Regions from separate parts of the Homo sapiens genome. Here regions 1 and 2 are each reported to be linked to region 3. The links are microRNA targets in miRTarBase. Many come from high-throughput screens and were not tested one by one. Region 3 holds a microRNA gene; each other region holds the end of a gene's coding sequence. Distances are from middle to middle.

Region 1 (7,952 bases), not on the chromosome of region 3:
TTTCAATGAATGAATCATTGACTGAATGAGCAACTAGACATTACTGAGTGCCTTCTCTGTGCTAGATAAATTATGTCATTATCTCACTGATTTCCCTAGAAAACAATTGAAGAATCAGGCTCAGAAAAGTACGTAACATTCTCAAGGTTACACAACCAAGAGGGGAGTAGTTGGCCTTGAGACCTGAGCCTTTCCATAACATTCTGTTCTGAATAACCAGGCAGCCTCCATTCTCTGAATTGCTGTCACAGGGGAGAGGGATTCTGTATGGTTCTGAGGAGTGCAGCTCAGGGTGGAAGTTGTAGGACAACCCAATTTGAGCTTAGTAAGAAGAGCTTCCTCACAATCAGATGGAAGGGTTTGCCAGGGGAACCGCTGGTTCCAAGGCCAGGTGGAACTGCTGTTTGGCAGGGATTTTATGTTTGCACTTCTCTGACCCAACTGGGAGAGCTGGTGGTGGAGGTGACCTTTTAGGCTCCATCTAGCCTTGTAGAGGAGATTCAGACAGTAGGGGCAGAGCTGCCCAGGAACCTGAACTGTGAGGTCAGCTGATCTTTGTCAGTGATTTAGGGGCATCTGACATCCAGTGGCCCAGAGGGTGTCTAGGAGAGCCTGTGAACACACCTCTGTCTGGACTCTCTAGCAGTCCGTGGAGGGACTGTTCTGAGGGCTGTCCACAAACTGTGTTCCCACAGGCAGTGAGGCTGAAAAAAAGAGAACAGGTACTTGGAACCTGTCAGATTCTAGCAAGTGCTCAATCCTGGTTGCTAAAAGTTTGGTTATGGGAGGTAAAGAAAGTTGCTCACGGGGCTGTAGATACCCTGGTTTTTCATCACCCATATGGATCTTTTGAAGGGCATTAAAATGAAATTGGCTGTCTGATGGTTCCCAGCGGGTGAGGGGACCTTGCCTGCCTCTCTGCCAGGGGCTTTGTGCCTGCTGGCAACCTTTGGGATTCTGTCTTTATGGCCTGGAGCATGAATGTGCTGCTACCTTTTGCCAAACCTCCCTGAACAGTCATGTTGAGGGGTCTCTCCAGTTCTTCTGTTTATGTCTTCCTTAGGATGATGGAGATAGCCAAAGCCATGAGGCTGAAGATCTCCAAAAGAAGGGTGTCTGTGGCCGCCGGCAGTGAAGAAGATCACAAGCTGGGCACCCTGTCCCTCCCGCTGCCTCCAGCCCAGACCTCAGACCGCCTGGCAAAGCGGAGGAAGATTACCTAGACGCATGCTTTCCAGACAGGGCGTTTTGGCTGCATCACAGCCACTGGCTGGTCCTATTCATTTCCATTTTTATGTATGTTTTGAAAAGAAAAGGTCCGGGGATGGTGGCTCACACCTGAAATCCCAGCACTTTGGGAGGCCGAGGCAGGAAGATCATTGAGCTCAGGAGTTTGAAACCAGTCTGGACAACATAGGGAGACCCCATCTCTACCGGAGGAAAAAAAAAAGAGTCAGGCCTGGTGGTGTGCGCCTGTAATCCCAGCTACTCGGGAGGCTGAGGCAGGACGATTACTTGAGCTTGGGAAATCAAGGTTGCAGTGAGCTATGATTGTGTGGCCACACTCCATCCTGGGTCACAGAGTGAGACCTTGTCTCAAAAAAGTAACATAAGGAAAAAAGAAGCCTTGCTTTAGCACAGGTATGAAGCCAGAAGCCAGCATCTCAACTGTGCTTGTCTTATGCAGAAATATAAAGCGATGGCCAGGTTGGACTTCATCTCTCTCCTTTGGTATTATTGCTGTGATTATAAATGGCAGATGTTTCTCATGTTGGTTCACCTGTGGGGATTTGGGAGGGTGGGTCCTCCCTCCCAAAGTTGACTCACCAGGCTGAGTCAAATCTAATGGATGAAGGTTTCCAAAGAGAAATGTGAAGTGGCGTGCTTAGGTCTGGAAGGGCCAGTGGAGTACGCAGTGAGGAAGGAGGATCTGGCCCAGCACGCCTGGGAAATGACACTTCAGGCTTTATCAGAAGCTAACTGGGTCACCAGTGTGATGGGGGCTGCCACAGGCCAGTAGGATACAGCCTGTTGTAATGGGGTGGAGCCAAGTCAGAGGAAGTGGTGACCCAATTTCTCTGTCTGGTGGAGGCCACATAGAAGGCAGGGGTCAGCTATGAAAGCCACACTTTGAAGAGGATGAATCAGTCAGTGTTCAGTTCAGAAAATCAATTGCTCTAGGTATCTTAAGAAGAATGGATTTTAATGTATGGATAAGGTGCTGTAGAATTGTGACAAGGGCCAGAGGACTGGGAATCGGAAGGTTGCCGTCAGGACTGCTGAATTCAAGAACACACTGCCGGGGTTGCCATCGGGGACTCAGAAGCCACTTCTGCTCCATAACTGCTCCTGGAATTCATGCAGCTGAAGATTCAACACTGGGCTGCTGATTTCAGCTACCCATGCTTTCTTCTTTTTCTTTTTATTTTTTTGAGACAGAGTCTTGCTCTGTAGCCCAGGCTGGAGTGCAGTGGCACGATCTCGCTCACTGCTACCTCCGCCTCCCATGGCCTGGTTCAAGCAATTCTCCTGCCTCAGCCTCCCGAGTAGCTGGGATTACAGGCATGCGCCACCATGCCCAGCTAATTTTTTTGCATTTTTAGTAGAGACAGGGTTTCACTGTGTTGGCCAGGCTGGTCTTGGACTCCTGACCTCATGATCCACCCGCCTTGGCCTCCCAAGGTGCTGGGATTACAGGTGTGAGCCACCGTGCCCAGCCTACCCGTGCTTTCAAAGGTCCTGTATTTCCACCACTTTGTCACCACAGACAGCCAGAAGGTCAAGCAGCTGGCCTCCACCTTGCTTCCTTCTGGTGCGCATATATAGGAGCCTGATTAGCATGTAGAATCCTAGCAGAATGGGAGTCTTTGAAATAGGTTTCAGCTCACCAGCCTCTAGTTACAGGAGGCATTCTAGAAGGACATGAGTGGATTATAACTGCCAACCAATTGTATGTGCCACTGAGGAGATGGAGAAGCTGTGTCCAGAGCGGTGCTATAAGGACAGGAGTGTGACACAGGAAGGCTTAGGTACGTGGCCTGGGCCCAGTCTCACATCTCAGGGTCCTGCTTCAAGTGGGAGCAGTTGAGATCTGTGACACTCAGCACCTGGGAGGCCGGGTCAGTGAAGGGAGGGAGACAGAACTCAGCTCCTCTGAGAGGAGAAGTTTACACAGCACCTGGGGCCCTCCATTTGGGAGTCACAGTGGAAAGGAGTCTTGGCTGAGCTTTGGGGCAGGTGCACCTTATTTTCTTTGCGGTCTGGGATGCCCTCAGAGCTGTGCTCCTCTGCTTTGTCCCCATCTGCCTCTGGCCCTGGGTAGGAGGCACTTGGAGCATACTTTGTCTTCCTTCAGCAGAGGTGTGGGCAGGGAATCTACTTGTCTCTTGTTTTCCTTTAAGCCGTTGTGAAAATCAAGTATGTGACTCTTCCTTGGAAAAAATAATCTCTCAGAAAAGGACTTCTAATACATCCTCAGGGTAGAATGTGTTTCCGTGATTACTTTTTTTTTTTGAGATGGAGTTTCGCTCTTGTTGCCCAGGCTGGAGTGCAATGGCGTGATCTTAGCTCACTGCAACCTCTGCCTCCCGGGTTCAAGTGCTTCTCCTGCCTCAGCCTCCCGATTACAGGCATGCACCACCATGCCCGGCTAATTTTGTATTTTTAGTAGAGACAGCGTTTCTCCATGTTAGGCTGGTCTCAATCTCCTGACCTCAGGTGATCTGCCCGCCTCGGTCTCCCAAAGTGCTGGAATTATAGGCGTGAGCCACCACGCCCAGCCTTTTGTGATTACTTTTAAAATTCAGCTGGGTTTGACACTTGGAGGCTTAATTTCTGGGAATGACTGGACACAGCATGTGGCTGGGACCCTCTGAACAACCTCTGACCTAGTGGAGAAGCAGGTGGTAATGACTGTAGGTATGGATAGGGAAAGACTAGGCGGGCAAATACTTGTCGTGTGTCAACAGGTGTATTTTGCTAAATGTCGGGGACACATTCCAAGAGGCTAAAAAGCAAATTTCTGTACATTAGGAGATTTGTGAGTCCTTAGGAAAGGCTCAGAAGAGGGCTCCACCTAGCACAATACCTGACATAGAAAGTGGTCAGTGTCTGCAGAATGAGTCGGCATGAACCGTACTTTCCTTGGCAGGGTTATTAGGTGGTAAATACCTGCAGAATAATGGGATTGTACTAGGGTTTCTTCTGGCTTTAGAAACCCATTTGTTTACTAATAGATTCCCAGAGGATACCTTGATCTCACCAAGCTATTTGCCAGAATGTCTCCTGATGGCCTCATTGAAGAAAGGGGGACTATGAGCCAGATGCTGGTGCCCTGAAGATTTGTAGTTTGTGGGATAGTCTTAACTTGGCAGGGTTTGATTAACAGAATGAAGTCTGTTCCTTAGAGGGAAGTCTTTGCTTGCTGCCCTGACCTGCTGGACACTGTTAATTGGGATGAGGTCAAAGAAGGCATAGTTACCACATTTGCAGGAGACCCTAACCTGGAAATAGTAAATTACATAACATTCTTTCAAGTGTCTCCTCTTTTAAAAAAGTATTTTGATATAGTTTCACACAGAGAAAACTTGCAAGAACTCTTGTATATCCTTTACCCAGATTCTCCAACTGTCAATACTTTGTCCCATTTACTATTTGCTTTAGACATTTTGAGATTTGTTTTTGAACCATTTGAGGAAAACATCCTACCCTTCTACCCATAAGTACTTTTTCAGTGTGTACATCTTAAGAATCAGGACTTTCTCTTCCATAACCACAGTCCATCAGATGCAGGAAATAAGACAATAATGCAATACTATGACTTAGCCCACAGTTCATGTTCAAATCTTACCGATCACCATGCCTCTTTGGTCTTGCTTAATCTGAAACAGTTCAGATTTTTATTGGACTTTCTCGGCTTTGACATTTTGGAGAGTGAGGTGTTATTCTTTAGGGTGTCTGTCAGTTTACATTTGGGGCTTTCCCGTGATCGGATTCAGGATTTACATTTTTGGCAGGAACAGCACAGAAATGATGCTGTGACCCACATGCATCACATTAGGGGCCCATGATGTGGGACTGCGCTTTCCTTGCTGCTGTTAACTTTTATCAGTTAAGGTTGTGTTTTCCGCATTGTGAAGATACTGTTTTTCCTTTTAATAAGTAATTTCTGGAGGGATACTTTGAAACTAAGTATCCTGTTCCTCATCAAACTTTCACCTACTAGTTTCAGCCTCAATTGATGATTCTTGCTGAATCAATTACCAAGATGGTTGCAAAATGGTGATTTTGCAACATTATCGTTTCTTCTAATTATTGGCATGCTCTTATAAGGCAGTTTGTTTTCTCGACCTTAGAAGTTTTGTGTTCATTTAGTTATTGGCATAGACTCAAGAGTCTTGTGTTCTATGTGGAGTCTGTTACTGTGATTCCTTGTGATGTCCAGATTGTATGTATTTGGCCAATCTTGAGTTCCTTCAGGAAACCTCCTGGATCCCATCATTTTAAGGGTGCTTCCTTACTTTCTAGCATGAGATATTCCAGGCCTACCTTGTACTTTCCCTGCTGCAGCCCTGGAGTCAGTCTTTTGTTGTGGTTTTGCTTTTTAGAGACAGGGTCTTGCTCTGTCGCTCAGGCTGGAGAGCGGTGGTGCAGTCAGCTCACTCCACTCCTGGGCTCAAGCCATCCTCCTGCCTCAGCCTCCTGAGTAGCTAGGACTATAGGCATGCACCACCACGCCCAGCTTTGAATCCGTCTTTTATCCAAGGAGCTCTGGCCTTTTAGCGGAGAATAGCGGATGACATGAATGATGGGCCTGAAGCAGGAAGTGAAATGCAATCCTGACCACCAGACAGATGGGATCTTCAGCTGCACTCAGGCAAGAACTAGGCTCGGGGTAGAGGTGACAGCTCTGTGATGGGGAGCTCAGGCTGCACCAGGAGGCCATGCTAGGTTTGACTTCATTTAAAAAGCACACTACACAGCTGACGGGCTCAGGAGCTCCATGAAGGGCACCCTGCAGAGGTCTGGAGGGTAGTGAGAAGGTACCAATGGGGCGAGCATGCCTGTGTCGGGAGGCTGATCCGGGTAGGAATAAGCCCAGCATGCCCCACATGAGCCCACCATGAGGAAGCATTTGGAGAGAAAGCTTGCTCTGTGTTGTCAGAAGGGAGATTGAAGAAGGTGGGCCCAGGGGTGCTGTTGACAGTATAGGCTCATGTGCTGTTCCAAGGCTCATCTCTGGCTCTTGCCTGGTCTGGCCATACCATGTCCACATCCGCTGTACTTAGGACTTCCTCTGGGCACCAGGGCAGTGGCCTCACCAAGACCTGGAGGCCTAGATGATGAAATCATACTGGTGTTTGCTGTGCTTGTACATTCCCATCAGCAGACATCCGTGTTTGGGCCTGACTGGCCAACAGGGAAGTCCAGGGAGGACACAGTATAAGCTGCTTGGGTAGAGGTCAGCTGGAACCTCTTGTGAACTCTGCACCAGAGTGAAGCCTTCACCCATGGCAGTATTCCTGTGGGTGGGAGGGAAGCTACTGCAGACTGAAAGCAAATGATTCCAAGGAAACACAGTACTTTAGAGAATTCTCTTTAGATCCGTGAGTGCTGCCCATGGAGCTGGGCCATTCCTCCTGAGATACAGGACAGGACGCCTCAACTCTGCTTCTTTGGGCTCTCCCAGACCTACCCAGGCCACTGGAGTGAGTCTAGAGAAATGACCAGGGTGGTGAAGAGACACCCTGCAAACTGGCACATACGAGAGGAACCCAGGAGGGCAGCAGACCCCAGGGGGATGAGGGTGCTGCCTGCAAATCTCTGAAGAGTTGTCACAGAACAGAGTGAAGAGATGTCCTTTGGGGGCCCCAGGAGGTAGAGATTCTGGGAATGAGGTTGGGTTTGTTTCCTCATTTGTCTGCCTGTCTGTCCGCCATCCATCCAACACTTAGTGAGCTTTGCTCTGTGCTGGGCATAGAGAATCAACAGTGAACAAGATGGGCAAAGTCCCTGCCCTCAACCAACAGACTGAAAAGAGAGGATTCAGTGCCATCTGCAGGTGGCATGTGGCTGAGTGGGCACAGGAGCATGGAGAAGGCGCAGTTAACTGTTATTTGTAGAGACAGGGGAAGGTGTTCCATAGAAGTAGTGACTAAGGAGCTTCTGAAGGAGGGGTAGAATTTAGCGAGGGAGAGAGACTTTGGCTCAATTAAGTAAAAAGTTAGATGGGCTCAGTTTTCTTGGGCAAGTCTGGCCTGTTGTGCAAAGCACCCGCACTCCCTGACTCTTCCCCAAACACAAGAGCTAAGGTGGGTGTTCTGTTCCTCCCACTTCTGCCTCCAAATGACCTGGAGGGAATTTGTGTCCCAGCTGTTCCCTTCCCTGCCACCTTTGCTCCAGGTAATAGCCCTCCTCACACCTCTCCACATCTGATAGGGAACTTTCCCCTGCCGGATCTCAGGAGCATCAGCACTCCCAGCCTCCAAAATGGGGACAATGAGCTCACCAAGTCAATGTTTAATACATTATTGACAGAACTTACGATGATTTTAGGTGGCTCAGGGATGTAGTAAAGTACTTGTGTTCTGCTGGTTAGGCTAAGCTGAAGTGACAAATGGCCCTCAAATGTCTGGTTTCAACAAAAGTTCATTTGCTTTTGTTGAATGTCTGGCACATGTCTGTCAGCCAGCAGGCACCTGGGACCCTGCTCCGGGTTAGCTTCACCCCGGGACTCGGGCTGCCATGTCTGACACGTGGTGGTCCACTGGCAGAGGGACACACGATCGGGGCAAGTTCTGCTGGCCCTTAAAGCTTCTACCCAGAAGTGACCATTAACCACTTCTGCCTACATTCACTGGGCAAATCAGGTCCCATGGCAACGTGAGAGGGCATGTACTCTCCCTGAGGGGCAGCAAACAGTAACTACCAAAACCAATGAATATTTTCATTTT
Region 2 (7,952 bases), 17 Mb from region 3:
CTACTAAAAATTAGCCAGGCATGGTGGCGCATACCTGTAATCCGAGCTACTCAGGAGGCTGAGGCAGGAGAATCGCTTGAACCCGGGAGACGGAGGTTGTGGTGAGCTGAGATCGTGCCATTGCACTCCACCCTGAGCAAGAAGAGCAAAATTCCATCTCAAAAAAAAAAAAAAAATTTAATTCTCCCTGTGTTCCCTTTATCATGTTCTAAAATGATGGGACATTGGCATGTGTATAAGTTAAATATATGTAGCTTTACTCATAAGAGCGAAAGCATTATCAGAGTCCACAGAGCTATTTTATTATTACTACTATTATTATTATTATTATTATTTATTATTTTTGAGACTGAGTCTCGCTCTGTCGCCCAGGCTGGAGTGCAGTGGCATCATCTCAGCTCACTACAACCTCTGCCTCGTGGGTTCAAGCAATTCTTCTGCCTTAGCCTCCCAAGTAGCTGGAATTACAGTTGTGTGCCACCACACCCATTTAATTTTTGTATTTTTAGCAGAGACAGGGTTTCACCATGTTATCCTGGCTGCTCTCGAACTTCTGACCTCAGGTGATCTGCTCACCTTGGCCTCTCAAAGTGCTGGGATTACAGGCATGAGCCACAGCACCCAGTCTTATTTTATTATTATTATTTTTGAGACAAGGTCTCGCTTGGCCGCACAGGCTGAAGTGGAGTGGTACAATCATGGCTCACTGAAGACTCCACCTCCTGGGCTCAAGCAACCTTCCCATCTCAGTCCCCCAAGTAGCTGGGACTACAGGAACACACCACCTTGCCTGGCTAATTTTTATTTTTATTTTTGTAGAGATGGGGGGGGCGGTTCTCACTATGTTGCCCGGGCTGGTCTCGAACTCCTGGGCTTAGGCAATCCTCCCACCTTGGCCCCCCAAAGTGCTGGGATTACAGGTGTGAGCCACCACACTCTGCCCATAAAACTATGCTATTATCAGCAATAACCCCCCAAAAGCCTTCTAGCTTCCTTTCAGTACCACCAACCTCTCCTCCCAGCCCCACTCATTCCAGGCCAAAATTGTGCAAAAAACTGTACATAATTCTCCCTTCCTGAAAGCCCAGTATTGGGACTTTGGACTTGGTTCAAATCCTGGCCCTACCGCTGTGTCGTGGGTGTTTTTCAACCTCTGGGCATCAATTTGATCTTGCTGAAAAGGAGGGTTGGCTGGGCATGATGGCATGAGCCACTGCACCCTTCCACTTCTGCCCACTTCTCTCTTCCGGGGCGAGGGGGTAATGTGCCAAGTTGGTTTTAATGTCTCAAGTTAAATAGTATGAAATTCTGGCAGGCTTTGGCCCTGAGTGTGTGGAGACCCTCACAACAAAAGCCTTCACTTCTTTCAGGTCTCCACACACACGGTCAACACTAAATGAGGATTTCCTGGGCAACAGCCACCAAACCTTTGCAGAGCAGCATACTTCTCTTTTGGGTGGACTCTTGAACAGCCTAAAATCTTCCACGGTCAGATAAAGGTGGTGAAACAAAGGTTGGCCTAATCTAGTACCTTAAGGACTGAAAAAAAAAATTAGGATTCAAACCAAAAGAAACTAAATTTCATTTTGTTTCTTTCATTTCCAAGTTTTAATTAAATATCTCTAATGGTTAGAAAATCAATGTCAAATACGAACATTGGTATACAGCTTAAAATACAAATGTCAGCAATTATTAAAGAACATGATTAATCATTGTTCCAAGTAAATGCTAGATCATTATTTCCCAGGAGGCAAGTTAAGCATCAGGTGCCTGAGGGGTAAGGGACAGGGCTTCAGTCGGCTCTGATAGCTGCATGGCTGTCCCAATGAGCTTTCCACTCAGATAGTGCCAGGGGCAGCTCTCATCACAGGCTGGCTCACTGGCCTTTATCCCCAGCTCCAAGGAAACACCAGGGCTTTTTCTGCCATGAGAATCGTGTTTCAGAGTCAAATGATCCACTTTAAGATGAAATTTGGACAGCTCAGTTCCAGAATATTCTAGTTTAACCTGGGAAGTTAAGACTTCCCAAAGGCTGAAGATAGGCTACTAGGGGCTGATGGACAAGAGTCAGGCCAGAGTCACTCTAAACACATCTTTGTTTTGTTCTGTATAATTAATTATACTGTATCTTCTTTAAGTAACTCAAGTTCAAGCTCTCTATATTTCACTTATGTTTAAAAGATGCCAATTTGATTGTGTCTAAACTGAACTTTACCCAGTGTGCTGAATACTAAAGACCTTTTAGGCCAAAGGAAAAAGATGTTTATATATTAACATACCTCAAAGTTTACATTTTCATTATAATAAATTAGCCTTAATGTTAACAAATAACATCTCAGAAAGCTGAATCTAAGTAGCCTGATCTATCATGCTAATTTGAGTTTGTTTTTTGTTTTTGTTTTTTTGAGATGGAGTTTCGCTCATGTTGCCCAGGCTGGAGTGCAATGGCACAATCTCAGCTCACTGCAACCTCTGCCTTCTGGGTTCAAGGGATTCTCCTGCCTCAGCCTCACAAGTAGCTGGGATTACAGGCATGCGCCACTATTCCAGGCTAATTTTTGTATTTTTAGTAGAGATGGAGTTTTACCATGTTGGTCAGGCTGGTCTCAAACTCCTGACCTCAGGTAATCCACCCACTTTGGCCTCCGAAAGTGCTGGGATCACAGGCATGAGCCACCGTGCACAGCCGACTTTTTTTTTTTTTTTTTTAATTCAAACTTTTTTTTTAGACACAGTCTCACTCTGTCACTCAGTCTGGAGTGCAATGGCACGATCACAGCTCACTCTGGCCTAGACCTCCTGGGCTCAAGAGATCCTCTCATTTCAGCCTTCCAAGCAGCTGAGACTACAGGCATGTGCCACACCTGGCTATTTTTTTTTTTTTTTGTAGAGGCAAGATCTATGTTGCCCAGGCTGGTCTCATACTGTACTCAAGTGAGTCTTCTGTCTTGGAATCCCAAAGTGCTGGGATTACAGGTGTGGGCCACTGTGCCTAGCCACGAATTTGAATTTAGAATACTATCTTATCTATCCATTTTTACCAAGCCCCAGAATCAAGAGAGATGCAGTTATATATTTTTTAAAAATCTGGTGAGGTGTGGTGGCTCATGCCTGTAATGCTAGCACTTTGGGAAGCTGAGGTGGGAGGATCACTTGAGCTCAGGAGTTCGCAGCCTGGCCAACATGGTGAAACTCTGTCTCTACTAAAAATACAAAAAATTAGCGGTGTGTGGTGGTGCATGCCTGTAATCCCAGCTACTCTGTGGCAGAGGCACGAGAGTCACTTCAATCTGGGAGGCAGACGTTGCAGTGAGCTGAGACTGTGTCACTGCACTTCAGCCTGGGCGACTGAGTGAGACTGTCTCAAAAAAAAGAAAGAAAATAAATCTAAATTATGCCAATATTATCAAAGTTTCTTACCTAAAATCATATACAATTTTAAGCACCAAAGCATACTTTCTTCAAAAGTTACATCCAAAATATTAAATGTTCAATCTCATTTTTCAGTTCATTTTAAGTCTCAATACTGAAATCTCCGTATAAAAGGAATAATAAATGCTTTGAAAGACCTGACAATTACCACTAAACTCCTCTCAAATCCCAGTGTCCTGGGGCAGTAGCCCATGTGCTTCAAGAAGTCCAATGACAGCAGGATAGTGGTCAGGGAGACAGGAGTTTAATCAGGAGGTGCTCCCCAGAATGTTCATGGAAAGAACAGATGATTCACAGTGGAAAAAAAGCAAATGATAAATAAGCCTTTCTTCTTTCTCAATATTACTAACTAGAAAGCAGGAAAATCTATTAGGCAGAGAAAAACCAGATATGCCTGGAGATACAGGTAAGGAGTCTGTGTTCTCTCAGCTGTCTCACAGGTTAATGAATCAGATATATTTATGACCCATGCTAGGCTCCAAAGTAAGATTCAGGTACTCTGTATGCCAGTAAAGGCTTCAAGGATACTCCAGGGTTTAGCTAGTATAAAGAATAAAGGACAAAGAAAATGCCAGACAACCAGCCTGAGCAACATAGCAAGATCATGTTTTCACCAAAAAAAGTTTTTTTAATTATCTGGGCCTGATGGTTCATGCCTGTAGACCCAGCTACTTGGGAGGCTAAAAGGGGAGGGAACATTGGAGTCCAGGAGTTTGACAGTGAGTTATAATGATGCCACTGCACTCCAGCATGGGCGACAAAGCAAGACCTTGTCTCAAAAAACAACAAAAAGTAAACGTCAGATAGAATCCTCAATTTTAGCAACAAACCCTCATGCTAGCAGAATGGAAGTGATTTACATTTTATTTTTGATTCAAGATCTAGGAGATAGGCTGGGTGCGGTGGCTCATGCCTATCATCCCAGCACCTTGGGAGGCCGAGGTGGGCAGATTGCTTGAGTCTAGGAGTTTGAGACCAGCCTGGGCAACATGGCAAAACCCTGTCTCTACAAAAAATTAAAAAAATTAGCCAGGCATGGTGGTGCATAGTCCCAGCTACTCGGGAGGCTGAGGCAGGAGGATCGTTTGAGCCTGGGCTGCAGAGGTTGCAGTGAGCCAAGATCATGCCATTGCACTCCAGCCTGGCTACAGGGAGACCCTGTCAAGAAGGAAAGAAAGAAAGAAAGAGAGAGAGAGGAAGGAAGGAAGGAAGGAAGGAAGGAAGGAAGGAAGGAAGGAAGGAAGGAAGGAAGGAAGGAAGGACGGACTAAGAGATAAGATGGATTTTTTTTTTTTTTTTTTGAGACAGAGTTTCACTCTTGTTGCCCAGGCTGGAGTGCAATGGTGCGATCTTGGCTCACCGCAACCTCCGCCTCCCGGGTTCAAGTGATTTTCCTGCCTCAGCCTCCCGAGTAGCTGGGATTACAGGCATGCACCACCACACCTGGCTAATTTTGTATTTTTAGTAGAGATGGAGTTTCTCCATGTTGGTCAGGCTGGTCTCGAATTCCCGACCTCAGGTGATCCATCCGCCTCGGCCTCCCACAGTGCTGGGATTACAGGCGTAAACTACTGCACCCAGCCAAGAAGGAATATTAATGGTTTCAGAATAAAAGGATCAAGGCTTAAATATTCAAAAGATAATTTCTTAGATGAAAACACATGACTAAACAGTTGCACTGAAAAATGTACAAAGAAACACCACCAAATTAGAAGTATCCCAACATTTGACTGAATGTCAGCTGGGACATAGACAAAAAACAGGAAACCAAACCTAGCTATTTGTTTTTCTTTTCAGTAGGTGGCATAAAGGGGTAAGATGAGAAAAGGGATCAACAAATGTAGTTCAACTTAATTGAAGAATTCTGCCTGACGTAGTAGAGGCAAATAAAATTGTTGGTTTTGTGGGATTATATTTGTTTCCATTTAGGGACACATTTCCTGTTGTTTAAATGCCACAGCAACTCATGAGATGAAATTCATCTCCAAAATGGATCCACATAACTGAATTTCCAAGTAAATACAAAGAGTCTACAGCCCACAGAAACCATTACAAATTACACTTTTATTTTTGCCCCAACTCCTATACTAAATATGGTCTAATTCCTGAGGACTAGCAATGGTGGTTTATCCCACAGTCTTGGGGCAAGCGTCCCATCTGATAAGTCTCACTCCTCCCTCCTGCCCACCACCTCTCAGGAAAGGATTCAGAGAAACTTGGTTAGAAACTGTTGTCCTTAAGCCTTTGTGTTTTCACCTCTCCAGATAGAGGTTGAATCTTAAGTCCACAATCCGCTAAATTAACCTGTCCTGTCTAAACGTCTATCACCACAACTACCACATGCAATCACATTTTCTCCTTTCCTGCAGCCATAGGAAGCAGGAACATGTGAAAGATTCTTTCAGACAATATTTTGCAGTTGGCAGGTGCAGGGTGAATGAGGGGTTCAGCATAGCAGAGGTAGAAGGATTGTGTGGAATTGACAGAAGAATGTTTGAGAGGTATAATCAGAAAGCTTAAATGCTGTGAATCAACCCCCAAAGGCTCAGCCCAGGAGGAAATTTTACTAATGCAGGAAAGGTCAGGAGTTAAGGCATAGACTAGTTACCTCCTAGCATGGCTCAAAGTTTCTGGAATGGGACTCAGTAGAGGGCACAAAAAGCTGCACCAGTAAGTTCAGCTGGTCCAGAGGCATAGATCCTATCAGCTGAAAACCAAAACAAGTCATTCCAAGCATGCTTACAGTAGGCGTGTTTGCAAGTTTAAGGATTCAGTTTTAAAATAAACGAAAACAGAACTAGAATGTAGTATTACAAAATTTCTCACAAGCATAATCACAAAAAAAAAAGTTAGGATATTGCATAGAAAAGGGTCCTGTAGTATGCTTTGTAAACCTAGACCTTAGTAATTTAAATAAAAGACAAACAAATAAAATATCTCTTCATAGTCTACAAGTCCATGATTGTGAATTCAGGAGAATTATCAAATTTGCAGATTTTTGTGGCAAGACCTAAGAAGCTCCTGAAGTTCTTTATTCTCAGAATCATGATTAAATTTACCCTTTGAAGGCTCAGGCTGACACAGTTTAACAACATCTTTATCAAATGACTGGGGCTACACAAGCCCAAGCCAATTCTATAGACTTTATGCTCTGTCCTCTCTGCATATAAGACTTAATCAGAACATACAGGGACATGAAATCACTGCTATTTCACTGTTTTTTAAAGCTAGGCTGTTTGTTTTTTTCCTCCTGTTAGTCTATTTAGCAAATTAAATCTGCCTGCGCTTTTAATAGTAAGGTTTGGATAGCTAGTTTAGGAGTAAGTGAAACATTTTAGAAGAGCATTTATGTTAACCTTGACAATAGGATGGGAGATTCTTAACCCCCCTTGTAATATGCACCGATTGATTCTGAGTTAAAATACACCACAGTGACAGTGATATCATCCCTGTACATCCTCGCCAAGTCCTCTGGCAATGTCAGCATCGCCGCCAGCCGCTCTGCCTCCATCTCCCCATACTCATTGTTCCCGATGGCATGTCTGATCAGCCGCGTGGCTGCATTTTGGTCAGCCTCGTGGAGCCCGCTGGCTTTCCTCTGCAGCAGCAGGCTCTGCATGAGCCCCAAGTTGGCGGGTCTCTGGGCCAGGTCTGTCTTGTGCCAATCTGCCTCAGCCAGGTGCCCCACCACCAGCCTTACCACGTCCTCATTGCTCAGCATGTCCCACAGGCCATCTGAGGCCAGCACAAGGAACTTATCCTGGGGCCTCAGCCTGTGGTATGTGACCTCAGGCTCAGCAGTCAGGTAGGGTGGAGTGTAGTAGTGTGGGGGTGTGAACTGGTAAATGTTGAGGGCCTCGGTATTGAAGCCCCTCTCCAGAATGCTGCGCTGCAACTCTTTACTCCACTTCAGCTGAACATCCCCAAAGGCCCTGCAGGGGATGAGGACGCCCAGTAGCCTGTCCTCCATGATGATCGTCCTGTCCTCTGACTCAGGGTGCTCCCTCTTTAGCCGGGACAGCTCGGCCTGGTTCCAGGCATTGTGGTCACGTGTAAGGGGCAGACAAGACCACATGCCATTGTCCTCTTGGACACCAAGGATGGCTCGGCAGTCACCAGCATTTGCCACGTGCAAGTGAATTCCATCAACATGGGCCATGCAAGCTGTTGCCCCAGAGAAAGCAACCTGGAGTGACAGGTTCCTTGTCACCTCATCTTCCAGGGGGGCCTGGATTTCCAGCGAGATGTCAGAATCCAGTCTCTGGAAGGAGTACATTAATGCTTCTTCAATGCTTAGTCCCATTTCCATGTGCAAATCAAGCAGTTCCTGCCAATAGACACGGAGGTGGTCAAGATGCACAGATGTGACATCCTTGTAGATACTGTCCCCTGGGTGCTTGAGCCAATGCAGGATGGGCAGCAAGGGTTTCATGCTTTCCATAGCTCCCTCCATGTGCTCCAGGGTCTGGTGGGACATCAGGGACACTGCCACATAGTAGAAGAGCCTCTCGCTCACTGCT
Region 3 (7,952 bases):
AGTGTGACTGAGGGACTGAATTTCTAATTTTATTTTAAATTAATTTAAATTTAATTTAAAATAGTGGCTGGGCATGGTGGCTCATGCCTGTTATCCCAGCACTTTGGGAGGCTGAGGCAGGAGGATTGCTTGAGCCCACGAGTTCAAAACCACCCTGGGCAGCAGGGGGAGACGCCCATCTCTACAAAAGAGAATTTAAAAATTAGCTGCACACCTGTAGTCCCAGCTACGTAGGAGGCTGAGGTGGGAGAATCACTTGAGCCCGGGAGTTTGAGGCTGCAGTGAGCTATGATCGTGCCACTGCACTCCAGCCTGGGCAACAGAGTGAGGCCCTGTCTTGAAAAAAAAAAAAAAAAGCAGCCACATGTGGCTAGTGGCTACTATCTTGGACAGTGCAGTCCTAGAAGACACAGGGGACTAGCTTTACGACAACAGGACATAAAAGTTAGGTTAGGGTTAAGATGGATAAATCAGACTTGGTGCTGTGAGGCCTGGGCCCCGCTCTCCCTGATGCTAGCCCTCCCCTGACTTGGACCATTAGGTCAAGTTCCTGTCTGCTTCGTCTCCGCAGAGCTGAGGAACTGCGTGTGGAGTCAGCCCAGTCTGGATGCACAGGAGGATGCTGGCGGCACAGTGAGTGAGGCCTGGTGCCAGAGCTGTGCGGACCCCTTGTTGGCCATGGAGCAGCAGGCCCAGAGGCCCTCTCCCCAGCCCTGCTTGCCTGCCTCGGAGAGGACAGAGGCCTAGGCCCACGGGGGAGGGTGTTGGCAGACAGATGCCCTCCAGGCCCTGGGGCCTCCTTAACGGCCCCTTAACGACACGCGTGCCAAGGGTGGAGGATGCCAGCCAAGGGGCGCTACTTCCTCAACGAGGGCGAGGAGGGCCCTGACCAAGATGCGCTCTACGAGAAGTACCAGCTCACCAGCCAGCATGGGCCGCTGCTGCTCACGCTCCTGCTGGTGGCCGCCACTGCCTGCGTGGCCCTCATCATCATTGCCTTCAGCCAGGGGGTGAGTGAGGGCAGCCCCTGGGCTTCACGTCTCGGCCCCAACCTTGGCCAAGCTGCTATCTTCTCTTAGCCTCTTCTGTAAAATGCTTATCTTCTGTAAAATGCTATGCTTTTTTGTTTGTTTTGTTTTGTTTTTGGGTTTTTTTGAGACAGAGTCTCACTCTGTCACCCAGGCTGGAGTACAGTGGCATGATCTCGGCTCACTGCAACCTCCATCTCCTGGGCTCAAGCAATTCTCCTGCCTCAGCCTTCCGAGTAGCTAGGATGACAGGTGCATGCCACCATGCCCAGCTAATTTTTGTATTTTTAGTAGAGATGGGCTTTCACCATGTTGGCCAGGCTGGTCTCGAACTCCCAACCTCAGGTGATCCACCTGCTTCGGCCCCCCAAAGTGCTGGGATTATAGACGTGAGCCACCATGCCCGGCCAATGCTCTGTCTTTTACAGCACATTTAGACTGGTAGAAGACAAGTTTCTAATTTAAAAAAATTTTTTTTGAGACTGGGCCTTGTTTTGTTGCCCAGGTTGGCCTTGAACTCCTGGGTTCAAGTAATCATCCTGGCTTATCCTCCTGAGTAGCTGGGAGTACAAGCATGCACGACCATGCCCAGCCTCTCTAACTTTAATTCAGTTTTGAAGTCTGGAGTGGTTTCAGACATTACATTAACTTGTCCAGATAAACTACTCTCATTTTTCTCCATGATGAAATTCGATTCTACTGAAGACCTGGGTCAGGGATGGCCTGTGTATCACTGCCCTCACTTCCTGTACCCATGCAGACATCATTAATCAATCCCTACATTCCACACTGAGCCTGTCTACATTCTCAGAATCCTCCTTTTGTTTTTTTTTTGTTTGTTTGTTTTTGTAGAGACATGGCCTCGCTATGTTGCCCAGGCTGGTCTTGAACTCCTGGCCTCAAGTAATCCTCCTGCCTTGGCCTCCCAAAGTGTTGGGATTACAGGTGTGAACCACTGTGCCCGGCCTCAGAATCCTTTTTAACACAGCTCTCCAGGCTGGCACCACCTATGTCATTTCCGGCCCAGGCACTTGCCTTGGTACAGCCACTAGCTGTGTTTAGCTATTGAGCATTTAAAAAGTGGGTAATGTGACTGAGGAACTGCATTTTTCAAAAAAAAGAGTTTTGCTCTTATTGCCCAGGCTGGAGTGCAATGGCACCAACTTGGCTCGCTGCAGCCTCCACCTCCTAGGTTCAAGTGATTCTCCTGCCTCAGCCTCCCGAGTAGCTGGGATTACAGGCCCATGCCACCACGCCTGGCTAATTTTTGTATTTTTAGTAAAGACAGGGTTTCACCATGTTGGCCAGGCTGGTCTCAAATTCCTGACCTCAGCTGATCCACCTGCCTCGGCCTCCCAAAGTGCTGGGATTATAGGCGTGAGCCACCATGCCCAGCCCATTTTCTTTTTAGTGAATGTAAATTTGATTAGCTGAGTTCTAGAAGAACACTCAGAAACTCCAGGGTGTTTATGTGAGTGAAGTGGCCAGGACCTAGCAGCTGCCAGTGCAGCCTGGATCCATGTGGCTACCAACCACAGGATGCTTGCTACTGTGTGCCAGCCCCCAGATCAGGCCTCTGCCCCCACGGACCTCCCGGATGCTGTGCCCGTCCTGTCCCACCTCTGTGCCATTGCCTCAGCTCCTCCCCTGTGGGATGACTTTTCCTGGTATCCCTCACCAGCCTCTGCTCACTCACTGAGGGCCAGGCGCAGTGTCCTCTTTGGGCGGCTTTACAAGGCTCTGCCTGTGAATGAGTCCTGCCCTGTGCTTGTGGTATCACCTGCGGCTGTGCACAGAGCACCGTGGGAACCCAGAGAGGAGGCAGAGGCAGATGGAGAGTGATGGCATCATGGGCGGGGCTGTGGGTGATGCTCTGGTTCCCGAGATGATGGGAAGGGGGTGGTTGAGGCAGCCTTGGCAGAGGTGACAAAGGCCAGAAGGTGAGTGGGAACCAGGTGTGGGAGGGTGCATCCACACCCTTCACGTGGAGGAAGCTGTAAGTGAGGCAGCCGGCCCGGCAGGCTTTCTGGAGGAGGTGGCTCTGCACTGGGGAAAGCCGAGGCATTCCTGTCTGTTTGCTCCACCCAGGACCCCTCCAGACACCAGGCCATTCTGGGCATGGCGTTCCTGGTGCTGGCGGTGTTTGCGGCCCTCTCTGTGCTGATGTACGTCGAGTGTCTCCTGCGGCGCTGGCTCAGGGCCTTGGCGCTGCTCACCTGGGCCTGCTTGGTGGCGCTGGGCTATGTGCTGGTGTTCGACGCATGGACAAAGGCGGCCTGTGCGTGGGAGCAGGTAACAGGAACTCTGGACTCCCTGCCAGCTGCGCCTTCAGCAGCTCCCATCCCCGTGGTTGGTGGGCATGCCACAGGCCCTTCGTGCCCCACGCTTGGCTGTGTGTCTAGGATGGCCCCAGGCTGGTTTTGTCCCTGTGAGTTCTCTGCATTGACAGGGCTGAGGTGGGGAGAGCATCCACTCGGACGCTGGGCTGCAGCACTTTTGGGTGGCTCCAGTTTGGTTGGAGATGACAGAACTTCAGCTCAAAGAGGCAAAAAGGCACAAACTGGTTCCTGTGTCAGGAAAGGCCAAGGGGTCAGTGCTGGGCTCCAGTGGGTAACTGGAACTGGGGCCTCTGGACAGCTTCGGCCCCGGGCACGCTGTCCCCAGGTGGGGGCAGAGAAGTTCACAGCGGCTCCAGGCTGCCCACCCCAGTTGAGAGAGAGGGCCCTTTCTCAACCAGCTCGACCTGCAGGCTTGAGCCACACTGGCCTGGCTGTGGTCATGGGCCCAGTCCCAGAGAGGCTGTCACCAAGCGGTAGCACACTCTGACCAGTGGGCCTGGGTCCTATGACAGCTCCTGTGGCTGGGGCAGGGTGGGGTGAGGCCCAAGGAAACCATGTGGACTGAAGGGGAGGGAGAGGGCAGCACTCCCAGAGGGGTGGACGCAGGACCAGCCGGTGGGGATGGTGGGGCAGCTCTGGGGGTGGAGGGAGGGCGGGTGGGGCCGCATTGCTGGAGGCAGCTGGTGAGAGGGTGCCTCAGCCTCCCGGTAATCATTTCTGCTGAGCGAGAACCACGTGGCAGGGGCACCAGGTGGGGGCTCCCTGGATCACGCGGGGCATGGAGCCTCCCACCTAGGGTGGCCACAGGCAGTGGATCAGCACAGGAAACCATGAACCTTGTGGCCGGGCCCACCCTAGAAACACATTATGGCTTTTCTTGTTCCCTTGTATGTCTGCCCACGCAGGGGGTGGCGAGGGAGCCAACCTAAGGATACGCACTGGGTGGGCTGCTGTGGTGCAGGGTTCCGGGGGCTGTACGGCCTGGGGCAGCATCTTGGGGCACCGGGCTCACCAGGCTGCATCCACAGGTGCCCTTCTTCCTGTTCATTGTCTTCGTGGTGTACACACTACTGCCCTTCAGCATGCGGGGCGCTGTCGCCGTTGGGGCCGTCTCCACTGCCTCCCACCTCCTGGTGCTCGGTTCTTTGATGGGAGGCTTCACGACACCCAGTGTCCGGGTGGGGCTGCAGGTGAGGGATGGGCTAAGGCCTCTGGGGGAGGTTTTGTGGTCTGGGTCTAAGGGCAGATGGGGGGGCCCCCTCTGGGTGAATCAGACCCGAAGGCCCCGGAGCCGTGTTTGCAGACAGCCCGCTCCAAGGCCGGGCCCTCTCCACGTCTGCTCGGAAGCTGGGCTCCAGGCGTGGCCCTGCCCTCTGGCCTTTGCTTTGCTGGCCTAGGGCTCCCCTGTGGCTCAGCCCTCAGGGTCGTGACCTCAGGCCTTGCCTCCCGGTTCAGGGACACTGTCGTGGGGTGAGTCCCATTGCCGAAGTTTCCCCTCGAAGGCCCTGTCCTGGCGGGGCTTGGGGGAGTACCCCAGGGCACTGCCTTGTGTCTTTGTGTTGAATGAGTGAATCTTCTGTTCATAATTATTGGGTGTTTAGAGAAGTGTTTTCCCTCTGACCAGGCCTGGTGTCCTCTCCAGGCAGAGGCTGGCCCTCCACACAGCCAGCTGGGCGCTGTGCCCTCTGGGACTGCCCTTAGCACGCATGCCCCTCGGGCCCTGGGCTCTGTGAGGTGGTCTCTTCTGCCTCCCTGGGTGTCCTGGTCTTGCAGTCCTAGTGACTCACTAGGAGACTAGCTCCTGTCTGGGCCTCAGTTTCCCTGTCTGCCCCAGGAAGAGTGCCATTCTCAGTGGGTTGAAGGTCAGGGAATGGGAAGAGGTGCCATCACTAGTCCGCCTAGGGGTCTGGTGCCTCGGGAGGGCATGGGCCAGGCCACATAATGAGCCAAACCCCTGTCTACCCGCAGCTGCTGGCCAACGCAGTCATCTTCCTGTGTGGGAACCTGACAGGCGCCTTCCACAAGCACCAAATGCAGGATGCATCCCGGGACCTCTTCACCTACACTGTGAAGTGCATCCAGATCCGCCGGAAGCTGCGCATCGAGAAGCGCCAGCAGGTGGGACCCGGCCCCCACTCCTCACCCTGTACACCCCTGTCCTCTTCCTCTTTCTGTTGGACATGAGACACTCATGCTGCCATGTGCATGAGGTGCATGGCCAGACACCCATGCAGGTCTCACCTCGGTGAGTCCTGGGCTCCAGCAGGGTAACCATAGCCTGCTGACCCTTGACTCTGCCTTCCTCTGTGTGGTTTCAGTCCTGGGCACGCAGTCCCCAGGTGGCGGCAGAGAAGGCCGTAGTGGCTCCAGGCTGCTCACCCATCAGCTTAGCCTCCCCAGCTGAAAGAGCCCTTTCTCAGTCACCCTGAGTCCCGGGGGCTGCTGGGTACATGGGAGGTAGATGCTCAGTTGGGTTGGTGGAGGACAAGAGCAGAGATGGGGACATTGTGGGCAGGGCAGGCAGGCAGGGAGGATGGGGGCCAAGGAGGCCAGGTCTGGGACCTGATGCTACCCTGCCTGTCCCCCGCTGGTCCCTCCGCCGGTCGCTTTGCTGGTCCCTCTGCTGGTCTGCCCACCCACACCCAGGAGAACCTGCTGCTGTCAGTGCTTCCGGCCCACATCTCCATGGGCATGAAGCTGGCCATCATCGAACGGCTCAAGGAGCATGGTGACCGTCGCTGCATGCCTGACAACAACTTCCACAGCCTCTACGTCAAGAGGCACCAGAATGTCAGGTGGGCGGTGAGACGTGTGATTAGCATATCCCGGGGACTGGGCCCACCGTTCCACCGGCCCCCAGGCGGCCTCCCCGCCCTATCTGGAGGCTCAGACCCCTGCCCATATAGGGATTGGGAGAGGGCCCCATGGTTCCAGGTCAATCTGGGGCCCTCCCTGGGTCTCAGAACCCCCACTTGTGGGCAGGATCAGATCAGGGCTCTTAAATTAGAGAATTTAGATTGGTATTGAAAGATCTAGCACACCCCCAAAACTGTAAAACTGTGTGAGCAAACATAGCTTTTGTGAAGGAAGGGGTCCTTTCAGATGGTTCTCAAGGGAGCACAGGACCCCCAGAATGAGGTAAAGCCCCCCGGCCTTGGTGCCCAAGAGTGCCCCGGTTCTGACACCTGTCTTTGGCTGATTTGCAGGGAACCACAAAATTTTACTTGAATGCACTGACCTGAGTTTGTCAAGTGTCGATGTGGGTGCTGGGTGCCGTTGAGTGTAGATGTGGGTCCCAGGAGACCCCCTGGGTCCTCTGCCTGCAGCGCCAGCATTACATCCAAGGCTGGCCCGCTGCCTTTTCTCTGGGCTGTGGATGGTCCATGAGCTTAAGGACTTTGGAGCAGGGAGAACTGGTGCAGATGCCAGCTCTTGGCTTCCCAGCAAGTCTCAATGTCCTGGAGCCTCAGTTTGTGCATCTGTAGAACGGGAGTTCGGCAAGGGCTGTGTGAGGACTCGATGCCTGTAAAGTGCTGGGTGTGGAGGTTGGCTTGAGGGAGCATGGAGCTGCCTCTCACCAGGGAGTTCTGAAGTCTGTGCTGTGGTGAACATTGGATGGGAAAGGGGAAGGCTCCGGGCTGCCTGCAGGAGTGCCCTTCGGCTGTCTGCAGTGATAGGGCCTGGGGTGGGGCCGAGGGCTCCTGTAGGCTCTGAATTTTGCTCCCTTCTGCTTTAACGTGAAGCCCCTGGAACTTTAATCTGTCTCTATGGCTGGGCGCGACTCTCCCATCCCTATGGAGGCTGAGGAAGGACGGGGGTGAATGGGCTCAGGCCTGGCAGGCTCCTGGGGCTCCAGACAGTCCTGCGTGCTCCTGCTGCTGCTGTCTAGGAGCCTGGCTCTGACACTCCCTCCCACCCTGCCCCATCCCCAGCATCCTCTATGCGGACATCGTGGGCTTCACGCAGCTGGCCAGCGACTGTTCTCCCAAGGAGCTGGTGGTGGTGCTGAATGAGCTCTTTGGCAAGTTCGACCAGATCGCCAAGGTGAGCCCGCTGGCCTACAATGGGCAAAGCCAGGCCCCTCCCCTGCCTATTACACCCCAGGGGTGTCCTGTGTTCAGTGCCCTGCTGGAATTGGGATGGGGAGGCGTGGCTGAATTTTAGCATCCAGCCAGCAAACACAAGCGCCCCATGGTAAAGGTGGGGGTGAGTGGTGGCCACGGCAGCCAGGATCCTGTGCCCCCAGAGTGACAGGCCAGTGGGGAGACTGACAGTGCACACTGGGCGATATACTGGGGCTCTGGAGCTCAGATGGGGGCTCAGGAGGAGGAGATGGCTCCATCCTCACTGGCAAGGCTAGCAGCCTCCACTCACCTGGTAGCTCAGGAGGACTGTGGAATGCCCAGCCTCACCCAGAAGCTGCTTTTCACAGGATCTGAGGTGAATCATGTGCACATTAAACTTTTACGTTTTGTTTGTTTGTTTTTGTGAGATGGAGTCTCATTCTGTCATGAAGGCTGGAGTGCAGTGGTGCCATCACTGCTCACTGCAGCCTCGACCTGCCAGGCTCAAGTGATTCTCATGC

Evidence for each region. Region 3 holds the annotated microRNA hsa-miR-6771-5p (CUCGGGAGGGCAUGGGCCAGGC, at 5,281-5,302, shown strand). A microRNA usually pairs through its seed, bases 2 to 8, with sites in the 3' UTR of a target mRNA and lowers its output. Matches are read on the target gene's strand: a 7mer-m8 pairs with bases 2 to 8, a 7mer-A1 pairs with bases 2 to 7 and ends in A, and an 8mer does both.
Region 1: the mRNA of POLR1E is a reported target of hsa-miR-6771-5p. The part of its 3' UTR that is shown has no 7-base or 8-base seed match.
Region 2: miRTarBase lists PDP2 as a target of hsa-miR-6771-5p. Seed matches in the 3' UTR shown: 7mer-m8 at 4,492-4,498.

The regions. Positions count from the first base shown.
Region 1 is chr9:37,501,980-37,509,931 of GRCh38, forward strand. It overlaps POLR1E (RNA polymerase I subunit E), which reads left to right. Exons shown (of 12, transcript NM_022490.4): 12 at 1,064-1,718. The coding sequence ends at 1,223. Among named protein-coding and RNA genes, the nearest start is that of POLR1E, 20 kb to the left of the region's middle.
Region 2 is chr16:66,884,734-66,892,685 of GRCh38, reverse strand. It overlaps PDP2 (pyruvate dehydrogenase phosphatase catalytic subunit 2), which reads right to left. Exons shown (of 2, transcript NM_020786.4): 2 at 1,585-7,952. The coding sequence ends at 6,812. It overlaps LOC124903700 (a long non-coding RNA gene), which reads right to left and starts at 328. Exons shown (of 2, transcript XR_007065089.1): 1 at 35-328.
Region 3 is chr16:50,287,341-50,295,292 of GRCh38, forward strand. MIR6771 (microRNA 6771) reads left to right here and starts at 5,276; the gene lies at 5,276-5,335. It overlaps ADCY7 (adenylate cyclase 7), which reads left to right. Exons shown (of 26, transcript NM_001114.5): 2 at 572-1,010; 3 at 3,117-3,320; 4 at 4,396-4,557; 5 at 5,336-5,485; 6 at 6,014-6,162; 7 at 7,300-7,411. The coding sequence starts at 840.